Homo sapiens: one gene and its partners. The protein of the gene in region 3 purifies or fractionates together with the protein of the main gene of each other region. This does not show direct contact. Each region holds a gene or a part of one and is shown on either strand. Other genes may lie near its edges.

What was found.
Region 1: the proteins of MERTK (region 3) and LANCL1 purify together in Homo sapiens (affinity purification with mass spectrometry; one large-scale study listed by BioGRID and IntAct). This does not show direct contact.
Region 2: the proteins of MERTK (region 3) and YTHDF3 purify together in Homo sapiens (affinity purification with mass spectrometry; one large-scale study listed by BioGRID and IntAct). This does not show direct contact.

What each region holds. Positions count from the first base shown.
Region 1 is NC_000002.12:210,470,164-210,473,819, forward strand, and holds part of LANCL1 (glutathione S-transferase LANCL1), read right to left. Parts: intron 1,914-3,656; coding exon 1,796-1,913; intron 171-1,795; exon of another isoform or gene 1-170. UniProt on the Homo sapiens protein: Functions as a glutathione transferase. Catalyzes conjugation of the glutathione (GSH) to artificial substrates 1-chloro-2,4-dinitrobenzene (CDNB) and p-nitrophenyl acetate.
Region 2 is NC_000008.11:63,185,571-63,189,226, reverse strand, and holds part of YTHDF3 (YTH domain-containing family protein 3), read right to left. Parts: intron 3,081-3,656; coding exon 1,482-3,080; intron 1-1,481. UniProt on the Homo sapiens protein: Specifically recognizes and binds N6-methyladenosine (m6A)-containing RNAs, and regulates their stability. M6A is a modification present at internal sites of mRNAs and some non-coding RNAs and plays a role in mRNA stability and processing.
Region 3 is NC_000002.12:111,996,081-111,999,736, reverse strand, and holds part of MERTK (tyrosine-protein kinase Mer precursor), read right to left. Parts: intron 2,415-3,656; coding exon 2,261-2,414; intron 1-2,260. UniProt on the Homo sapiens protein: Receptor tyrosine kinase that transduces signals from the extracellular matrix into the cytoplasm by binding to several ligands including LGALS3, TUB, TULP1 or GAS6.

The DNA of each region.
Region 1 (3,656 bases), about 98 Mb from region 3:
GATGACATTATCTATCAACCACATCACACCTGGAACACAGTAGATAATAAATGGCAGCTGTTATACCTTCCTTCTTGAAACAAAATCCTGTCATTTCATTCTCATTTTAACTTTGTGTTAAGCTTCTACAATCCATAAAAATGATAAAACAATAAAATGGTCCAACATTATCTAGTCCAGTCTTATTTTTACAAAACATTGACTTTAAAAGTCCCTGAGATTTTAATTTTACTGGTTTAATCTGTCTTCCCTACCCTTGTTTAAAAAAAAATAGAATCATGTGTCATTATTGGTTGAGTACCCGTTATCTGAAATCCTTGGGACAAGTGTTTTGGATTTCAAATATTGAAATATTTGGCTTATATTTACCAGTTGAGTATCCCAAATCTGAACATCGGTAATCCTAAATGCTCGATGAACATTCCCTTTGAGTGTCACATCAGAGCTTAAAAAGCTTCAAATTTTGGAGCATTTTGGATTTCAGATTTTCAGATTTGGGATGCTCAACCTGTACTAAAGAGGAAGACTAATAAGAGATTGCTATTATTAATAAATTTCTCTCAGAAAGCTTTCAAACTGCAGTCTGTAGATCACCATCTGCATCAGGACCACTGATGGCTATAAAAGGCAAATTCCTGGGTTCTGCTCAAGATCTACTGAATCACAATCTCTGCTATGAGGCCATTTTTATGACAAATTCCACTCCTTAAAATCAAATTAAAATTCCCTGGATTGCAAGCTTATTCCTCCTTGCCCACTCTTTAAAGCGAATGGGAAACACTGAGTCTCTAGACTATGCTTTCTTCCAGATTACACAGCTGTCTTTTGTTTCTCTACATTTGGTAAATTAATTGCAGTTCTTCAACTTTTCTTCTTTGATTTTTTTTTTTTTTTTTTTTTTTGAGATGGAGTCTTGCTCCATCACCAGGCTGGAGTGCAGTGGAGTGATCTCATCTCACTGCAATCTCCACCTCCCAGGTTCAAGTGATTCTCCTGCCTCAGCCTCCTGAGTAGCTGGGACTACAGGTATGAGCCACCATGCCCAGCTAATTTTTGTAGTTTTAGTAAAGATGGGGTTGCACAGTGTTGGCCAGGATGGTCTTGATCTCTTGACCTCGTGATCCACCCGCCTCGGCCTCCCAAAGTGCTGGGATTACAGGTGTGAGCCACTGCGCCCAGCCTCTTCTTTGATTTTTCTCTTTCTCACCTTTTTTTGACATCAATGCACTGTTTCTTCCTAAACCTCCTCCAGCCTCTCAATGATTGAGATTGGCAATGCAGCAATTGCAAACCAAACAGCAATGACCATATGGGAGGATTAGTTCATGGAAGTAATACTTTACCCTGTATGGATTCCTGTATGGATTCCTGTTACGGGTTAACTTTTTAAAACATGCTTCTGGACATATTTTATTCCTGAGATCAATCCTCATTACCTCCGCTTCAGGCATTGTATTTTGGAACTCTTCCCAATTCTTCCCACTGAAATTACATCTGCAAATTAACTATGTAATATTGAAAATCAATTTTTCTCCTCACAAGTATAGCAGCCATCCAAATGTCAGGCATGAATTACATGAATATGCTTACCATGCCCTAAATTCAGGGCACTATTAAAAACCCAGAAGATACCATGGTTGGTTGGGTTGAGGGCACAGCACTCTCCCAGAAGCAATTACTCATATGCAGATGCAGGAAGCATTTAAGGGTGTACCATTCAGACAGACAGCTCTCGGAAAAATGCTCTGGCTCTTAAGCACAATGCTTATGCCAGCTCACAGTCAGCACTTCATACCTGCCCAGCCAGTGTAACCGGTGCCATCCCGAGGGTCTGCTGATTTCAGGCCTCTCTCCATTTGCTGAAGAAGCTCCCGAATCTTATTGGTCAAGCGTTGTGAGAACTCAGGAGTCAGCTAGATATTAAAGGAAAACAAGTATCAAAATAATGTGGGTCACCCAGCTTGCTGGACTATAAGCTATCAAAGACAGAAAGGTATTTCTTTTCCACTTAGGACATATTTTTCCACCTGGAAGACTAAACAATTTATTTTCTATTCTTAAACAACAACATCACATTAACAAAATTTATAAAATACCGTTGTAACTTATACATGTTTTAAATAAAATTTTTAGTTAAATACTAAAACAGACTGCCAATGATAAACTGGCTCACAGTAATTTTCCACCTAATAGTAATCGTCTATTATTTAAACCAATATTATAATAAAGTCTTTTTATTAAATTAAGCACAAATCAGATGTTTGGTGCTTTCAAACTACTGGATTTTTAGTATTCAAGCTGCAGCAAGGTAAATTCCCTAAAGAAACATCTAATTGCTCTTATTTAAAAAAAAGGATTTAAAAAAAATGAAGTAGCCAAAGAAAAGCAAAACAAATTCATGTATATCAAGAGCCTTAAGCAGAATAGAAAGAATATCAAACTTAGCATCATAAACCCACGTCCAGCACAGTGTCTGGCAGAGAATACGGGCTTCACAAATGTTTCTCAATGAATGAGCCTGTCTACATCCTTACCCGCTATTAGCTGATCTTGCTCAACTCATAACTTCTTTATGTTTCAAATACCTCCATAAAGTCAGGATAATAATAACTGCCACGCCAATTTCAAAAGGTACTTTGGGGATTAAATGAGATAGTGTATCACAAGTCTTTCTCATTCAGGGATGTAAATGTTGACATTTTTACTAATTCTTTAGCAGATCAAGGGTCTAAGGCAAGTAATAGTTTAGATATGGATTGAAAATACACTAAGGCTGGGGCTGTGGGGTTAGTACCACCCATATGAAGGTCCACAGATGCTGTGCAAACAGTGAGGCTCACACAATCATTACGTTATTCTTCTTAAAGGCAAATGAAAAATAATTTTAAACTTCTGCACACACTGAATCAGTGTCTTAAAAAGTCACTGAAGGCCGGGCACAGTGGCTAATGCCTGTAATCCTAGCATTTTGGGAGGCCGAGGTGGGCGGATAACCTGAGGTTAGGAGTTCGAGACCAGTCTGACCAACATGGAGAAACCCCATCTCTACTAAAAATACAAAATTAGTCGGGCATGGTGGTGAACGCCTGTAATCCCAGCTATTCGGAAGCCTGAGGCAGGAGAATTCCTTGAACCTGGGAGATGGAGGTTGTGGTGAGCCGAGATCGTGCCACTGCACTCCAGCCTGGGCAACAAGAGCGAAACTCCATCTCAAACAACAACAACAACAACAACAAAAACCCAAAAAACTCACTTTATTGTCTCCCTCAATAATTTTAAGAACTTGCTGTGATTCTAAGACTTGAATTTCACATAGTAATTAAAATTTCAGAACAATGTGGGGGAAAGTTACAAGGGTATAAACATTTTATTTTACCATGTAAGGATTGTAGAAATAAACCTAACCACTCACATCAGAATCTCATTTTTAAAAATGAGATAAAATCTTAACACTGAAAACAGCAAGAAGGCAGTATCAGAATTAACAACAACAACAATAGTTTAAGGATACGTTAAGATTCACTTCGGAGGAGCATCCTTGATAAGGCAAATCAGACTTTCAACCACATCTGGATTATTTAATCTAAAGCACCACTATGATCCCTTATTTCACTCTTTAGAAGAAACGACGTTGTTTGACAGACACACTCCCATTA
Region 2 (3,656 bases), on a different chromosome or scaffold from region 3:
ATAGGATATTTTTAAAAAATAAAAATAAAAATATTCTGGCCAATATAATACAAGGATAAACAGCATGTTTTATTTCAGGAATGTCTCCCTCAATCTTACAGAGGGTATATAACAGAATTAGGAATCAAATTCTGCAAAGCCTCTATTTTGTACAAGTGCTTTAAGTATAAAAATTATAAAAATACTTCAAGAGTTTTATGTTTTAAAAACATATTTTGCCAGGCACAGTGGCTCATGCCTGTAATCCCAGCACTTTGGGAGGCCGAGGCGCACGGATCACGAGGTCAGCAGTTCAAGACCAGCCTGGCCAACATGGTGAAACTCGTCTCTATTAAAAATACAAAAATTTGGCAGGCATGGTGGCGTGTGCCTGTAATCCCAGCTACTCGGGAGGCTGAGGCAAGAGAATCACTTGAATCCGGGAGGCGGACGTTGCAGTGAGCCAAGACCACTCCATTGCACTCCAGCCTGGGCGACAGAGAGCGACTCCATCTCACAAAAGAAAAAAAAAAAAAAAAAAAAAAATATATATATATATATATATATATGTAATTTCTTATAAACACAAAATTAGAGTAAAACATTTATTTAAAAGTTGTTTCAGCTGGGTGCAGTGACTCAGGACTGTAATCCCAACATTTTGGGAGGCAGAGGGGTAGGGGCAGATCCTTTGAGCTCAGGAGACCAGCCCGGGCAACATGGTGAAACCCTCTATCTACAATAAATACAAAAATTAGCCAGGCGTGGTGGTGTGTGACCGTAGTCCCAGCTACTCGGGAAGCTGAGGTAGGAGGATCACTTGAGCCCAGCAGATCAAGGCTGCAGTGAGCCATGTTCACGCCAGTACACTCCTGCCGGGACAAGAGAGACCCTGTCTGAAAAAAAATTAAATAATATATAAAATATAAATAAATAAAAACTTGTTTTAAGTGCCAGGTTCAGTGGTACAGGTCTGTAGTCCCAGCTACTTGGGAGTCTAAGGCAGGAGGATTGCTTGGGGCCAGGAACTTGAGGCTATACGCCATAACTGCACCTGTGAATAGCCACTGCACTCCAGCCTGGGCAACACAGCAAGATGTCATCTCAAAAAAAAAGTTGTTTCAAACTCTAAATATATTTTCTCCTATGTTAGTATGATTAATAATATTAATGATTAGAGCCCCTGGTTAGTTCATGAAGTCTGTTTAGTTACAAATGCCAAAATTCATTCAGCTTTGATGATAAACACTGAGGCCCAATGGCCTTTATCATCTAGGGAGTATGAAGAATGAGCAAGAGGCTAACTCAGCGTGAGTTACCCTGGGAAAGGAAAGAAGAAATGGTTCATATAGGACACACATAGATACCTTCAAGGGTGTTTGTAGAGTTGTTTCTTAAGTAGTTGGTTTCCTTCACAGAAAGTTCTTAAACTCAGAATATACCCATCCATGCACCCCACCAGCAATACAAAGACCCCAAACAAAAAATTACTATATTCTTACCCTACGCATGGCTTCCTCCTCTTCTTGACGCTTTTCATAATGTGCAAAGTCATCAAAGATTGAGGTGGTATGCTTGAAAGTAGCAATTATTTTAAGCACTTGCTTAGCTTTTTCTAGGGGTACCTCTTGAGTGTCCCTTGAATTGGTAACCGGTTTGTTGTCATTATTTTCTAAGCGAATATGCCGTAATTGGTTATTGGGAACATCTTTGACAAAGATCCATTTAACTTCAAATTTGCCCTTCCACTTATCCTGAGACCAGACACCAGCATACGCATTATAGTCCACAACAGACTTCATTTCAGCCACTCCACAAAAATGTCCACTGCCATTCACACTGAAGAGTAAATAGAGTGGGCCTTTCCCATTCAGGGAACGGTAAGCTGCATCCAAACGCTTATTACCATGCTCAGTACTACACCAGATAGAGTATTTAATGGAACGATGTATGTCATCCTCAGAGTAGCTTTTAATTATAAACACACGTCCATTCTTCAGATTCCAATCAAAGTCTTTGGGATTATAGTTGTTTATGGCCTTTAGCTTTTCCAGCACGGGATGCACTTCTACACTAGAAGGTGAAGCACTGACAGGTACAACACCTAAACCAAAGTTTTCACTGCCCGCTCCATTGTTCTGGTTGAAGCCTGCTCCCCTGTTACGAGGAGCTACCCAGCGATTCTGCAGCTGCTGCTGTTGAGGCTGCACTTGGTGAGGCTGGGCCTGTGGCTGAGGTCCTTGTTGCTGCTGTGGTTGTGGTGGTTGAGGCTGCTGTTGAGGCAGTTGGCTTTGCACCAATGGTGGTGGTTGAATTAATGGCTGAGGCTGCTGGATTATAGTTTGAGGAGGCAGAACTGGTTGGGTTGGTGGAGCCTTTACCACTGACCCTTTTTCATCCCAAGTTCCAATATTCATGTTGTGTTTTATAGGAGGTGGTGGTACAGCAGAACCCCCAATTCCCACATTGCCCTTGGGTTTAAGTTTCGGTTGAGGTTTGGCAGGCTTTCTGGCAATGGCAGCCCAGGAGGTTGGTTTAGGTGCTGCACTGCTAACTGGGGGCACACTATTGGTTGCAATGCTAGTCATACCACTGCTGCTCAAAGCTGTACCTACAGTTTTTGTCACTGCAGCTGTCAGGTCACCACCAATTTTCAGTCCAGTCATGCCTTGCTCAATACTGCTAATGCCAGGCACCTTACTCAAAGTATCATTGCCAAATCCAGCCTGTCCATCAGTAATAGCTCTCCCAAGAGAACTAGGTGGATAGCCATAACTGCTACTATAAGCAGAACTTTGTGTTGATTGTCCCTGAGATCCACTTGTCCCCCATGTAGAGAAATCAGCATTACCAGGAAAAAAGTTAAATCCATGTTGACCAAGAAATGGAGGGGTATTTCCTAATGCCCCAGGTTGACTAAATACACCATCTGGTATATAGTGATGTTCTCCATTACTCATTTGTCCATAGGTTGTCAGATATGGCATAGGCTGGTCTCCAGCTGTGGACCACGCTGCTTCCCCAAGAGAATATGGAAATCCAATGGATGGAGCATAGTAACTAGGCATGTATGGATCTGACATTGGTGGATAGCTGTTACTCTGCAAAACAAAATATCACAATCAGTAGCGAAATGTCCTCTTAAAAGAGCAAAAAAAGAAATCTGAAAGATTAAAATCAAGAAGTTTTAAGTAAATGAAAATAAAAGATGTACCTATTCTAGATAAACAAAATTAAAATTTCAAATCCAGTTTTATCAACAGAAAAATTTGCTGATGAGTAGTCACATCTTAAAATATTTCTTACAAACTAACCTATATGGCTTTTTTCAGGGATGAGAGTGGGGGTATAATGAGTATTATTTTTGTTTGAAGAGCCAGGCCCTCTGTCACAATTTAAAAATATCATAATTTCTACAAAAGGCTAATATATAAACTTTGTGGACACAAAATTACCATTTACAGCCAGCTGTACTTTAATCAATTGATGTATGCAATCACTTACACACAAGGATTAAATAAACTAGACAACTCTGCCGAATAATAGAGGAATTACAGCTTATCTATATGATGGAATCCAGTTCAACCATTAGATTTTGTACTTTCATTAAGGAAAAAATGGAGAAATGCTCACAGTCTTGAGAAGATTCAAGATTACGTTTATAGCATGATGCAAAT
Region 3 (3,656 bases):
GTTGGTGGTCTCTTCACATGGACACGTGTGACACTAATAATGTAAGCTGTTAATAATAGGGGAAACTAGGTATGGAGCATATGAGAAATCTCTGTACTATCTTCTCAATGTTTCTGTAAAATTAAAACTGTTCTAAAAAATAAGGCTGGGATTCATGCCTGTAATCCCAGCACTTTGGGAAGCTGAGGCAGGAGGATCACTTGAGCCCAGGAGTTCAAGACCAGCGAGGGAAACAAAGTGAGATGCCTCATCTCTATAAAAAGTAAGAAAATTAGCCAGACATGGTGGTATGTGACTGTGGTCCCAGCTAATCGGGAGGCTGAGATGGGAGGATCACTTGGGTTCTGGAGGACAAGGCTGCAGTGAGCCATGAATGCACCACTGCACTCCAGCCTGGACGACAGAGCAAGATCCTGTCTCAAAAAAATAAATTAATTTTAAAAATAAAAAATGAAGTCTATTTTAATAATCCATTTAGTCACTGTTTTAGACTAATTGGTGGGAAAGTATTATGAATTTGAAAGTCTAGATTACAGATTTAATCTCAAGTTACCTTAGGTACATAGATTATTTTAAAGAGATAACACAATTTTGAAAAAAATACTGATGTACACAAAGCAAAGCACTTGGAAAGACGTATGCCAAAATAGCAACCAACACCATCTATGGGCCTGAAATGGGCCTCACTTTCTCCTTTTGACTATTCGATATAATCTGATTTTTAAAAAAATATAATGTTACTTTTATAAGTAAAAATAAAAGTATTTTCATTTAAAAATGAGCTGGAAAGTGGTTTTACAAAAGGAACAAATGAATAGATCTTGTAGTAAGGATCCATGGGAACTGACTTCGACATAGATAACAATAACCTGTTACAAGTCTTTCATTTGTTTTAAGCTTCTGCTGAGTTTAATGGTTCCTGGAAATAGTTTTATTTCTAAATATTTGAAATAGTATTGTAATCTTGTTAATATATTTGCTGTACTCAGCAGCCCCACTTTTTGGTAATGTGGCATGTGCTGCTCCTTCTGGCTGTAATGCTCTTCTTCTCTCTCATCTAATGAATACCTGCTCTTTCTTCAGATCTTAGCTCTGGTGTCAGCCACTTCTGCACAAAGGCCTTCCCTGACTTTCTTAATGCAGCCAAATTTTTCTGACACATTCTTACCCCTTTATATAGAATGTATTACAGTTGCCATTTTTAATCTATTTTGTGACTGCTTGACTACTGCCTGACTCCCCATGAACTGTGAACCCCATGAGGGCAGGATTTTGTTCACCACTGTATTCCAGGCTACCGCAGTGCCCAGTGCCTAGCAGGCCTTTAATACATATTAATGAGCTACTCTTGCAGCTTCTGCAGAGGTTCTCTGTACTTGTTTTATGATGAACCCACATGTCACACCAAGATCCTGGGATGTATTTTAGTCAATTATATGTTCAAGATTTAGATCAGATTTTGTCCACTTCTTTAAAATAGTCATTCTTAGAATTCACATACTAAGGTATAACAATTGTAAGAATAGGCTTATAAAGACTAAAGTAACTGACCCCTAAGACTGGGATGAACACAAATAAAGCGTAGCCTGGCTGCCAATCTTAAGCCCTTCCCACGCCTATGGCAAGTCTTGGAGCGAGTGGGATGTTCTAGTAGCATTCTGAAGGTGGAGCAATGAAAGAGGGAGGCTCAGCCCCCTCCAAAGTATAGCCATACACCCCTCACTCATTCTGTCCCACTCCAACCTGCCAACAACCCTCCTGGGTTCAAGCAATTCCTGTGCCTCAGCCTCTAAAGTAGCTGGGATTACAGGCGTGTGCCATCATGCCCAGCTAATTTTTGTATTTTCTGTAGAGATGACATTTTGCCATGGTGGCCAGGCTGGTCTCAAACTCCTGACCTCAAGTGATCCGCCTGCCTTGGCCTCCCAAAGTGCTGGGATTACAGGTGTGAGCCACCGCACTCGGCCTATTTTTAAGGCTTCTAATAAAAGTCCTCACTTAACAGCAATCCAGTTTGAGTAGCAAAGGCCTACTGATACTCTTCTCTGTAAAGGAACCCTTTTCAGGCCTGGCTTTTGCTGGCAGCTGCTTCTGTAGACCATGGCGTAAGTCAGGAAGCTGCCTGAGCCCAGGGTATGCATAAGGCAGGGCAGCCATCTGGGAGCAATGTAAGCAGCTGGCCCAACAGGAAAGGCATAATCACTTGGTATAACAACCTTGTCAATACCAGTGGGCAAACATTTTTAGCTGGGAGACTTACCCAAACTTTGTCTCCTGGACTCTTTTTCTGATGGCCAAGGAGATGTATAAAATCAACCCAATCAAAATAAATCCACAAAAGCAGCCAAAGATGATGAGCACAGGATCTGCGTTGCCAGGCGCCGGAGTTGAAGAGGGGGCATAATCTACCCAACCTGGTGAGATACCAATAGACCAGTCATGGGTTTGAAATATATGAGAAACACTGGCTTGTAACAGGGAAGAACAAATAGTCAAAGCTTTCAGAACTCAGTTAAATCTTTTATAATCTACAAATATAGGCAGGTCTCACTTTGTGTAAGCTGAGACCATGCGAAGAGATCTTAATAACTGATGGGAAACTAGCTTGATTTACTCATTCCATAACATATACATAGATCAAAATGTCACACTGTACTCCACAGGTATATACAATTTTTCAATTATTAATTAAAAATAGTAATTTTAAAATCAATGAGAAAACTCATGTCATTATACACGTACAAGAAAATAACAAAATTACAACTAATATTTACTTCTACTGTAGTTTAAAATGTTAGAAACATGAAAAATTAAAGTGTCATTTCTTTGTAAAAAAACGATCGAGAGTAGGTTAAATAGTTTGCCTTCTAGTCATGTAACTTATGATACAGAGAAAATATAGTTTCTCTGTTTTGAAGAATTGTCACATTCCTTTCTAAGTTTGGATCGACTGCTAATGTTTTAGCTTTTGTTCTTTCAATGTTGTAAAATATCTCCCAGTATTCCTTCAATGCTGTTTTTTGACAGTGTCGCTTTCTCTGGGACATTTTCAACCTTTTTGTCACAACCTCTTGATGTATGTGCATAAGTTCACCTTCACTAAGGACCGCTGGTTCACATCAGCAGGGGCAGTTATCAACTTCCCACAGTCTTGCATTCAATTCAAATTTTACGTTGAACACTATCACTTTGCATTTCTTTACTGCACTTTTACCTTTGTTCACCAACTCCCTCTTTCAATTACCCATTTTTGTAAAATGTCATGTGGGTTTGTCCCTGGGAGACAAGGAGGCAACACAGCCACATGTCTCCGCAAGGTGGGCACAAAAAGAATGACAAGGGCGCAGTGACCGATCACAACAGCCTTTGAAAGAAATGATGCCGTTGGTCATGATAGGATGTGCATCTGTTATTTCTACGATGGTTGGTGGCCTGAAGAGCCAGCAGCCCGAGTTTATGCTTTATGCCATTATGGTTAATATAGAATGGTAACTAAAATTGGAACTATATTTTTGGGGAATGGGTGTTATTTAACTGTGGTAATTGAAATTTGTGCATACTGGAGCCCTGCAAGGTAAGGACTGCCTGCATAGCAAACATGGCTTCCCCACGTTGGCCAGGTTGGTCTGGGACTCCTGACCTCAAGTGATCCAACT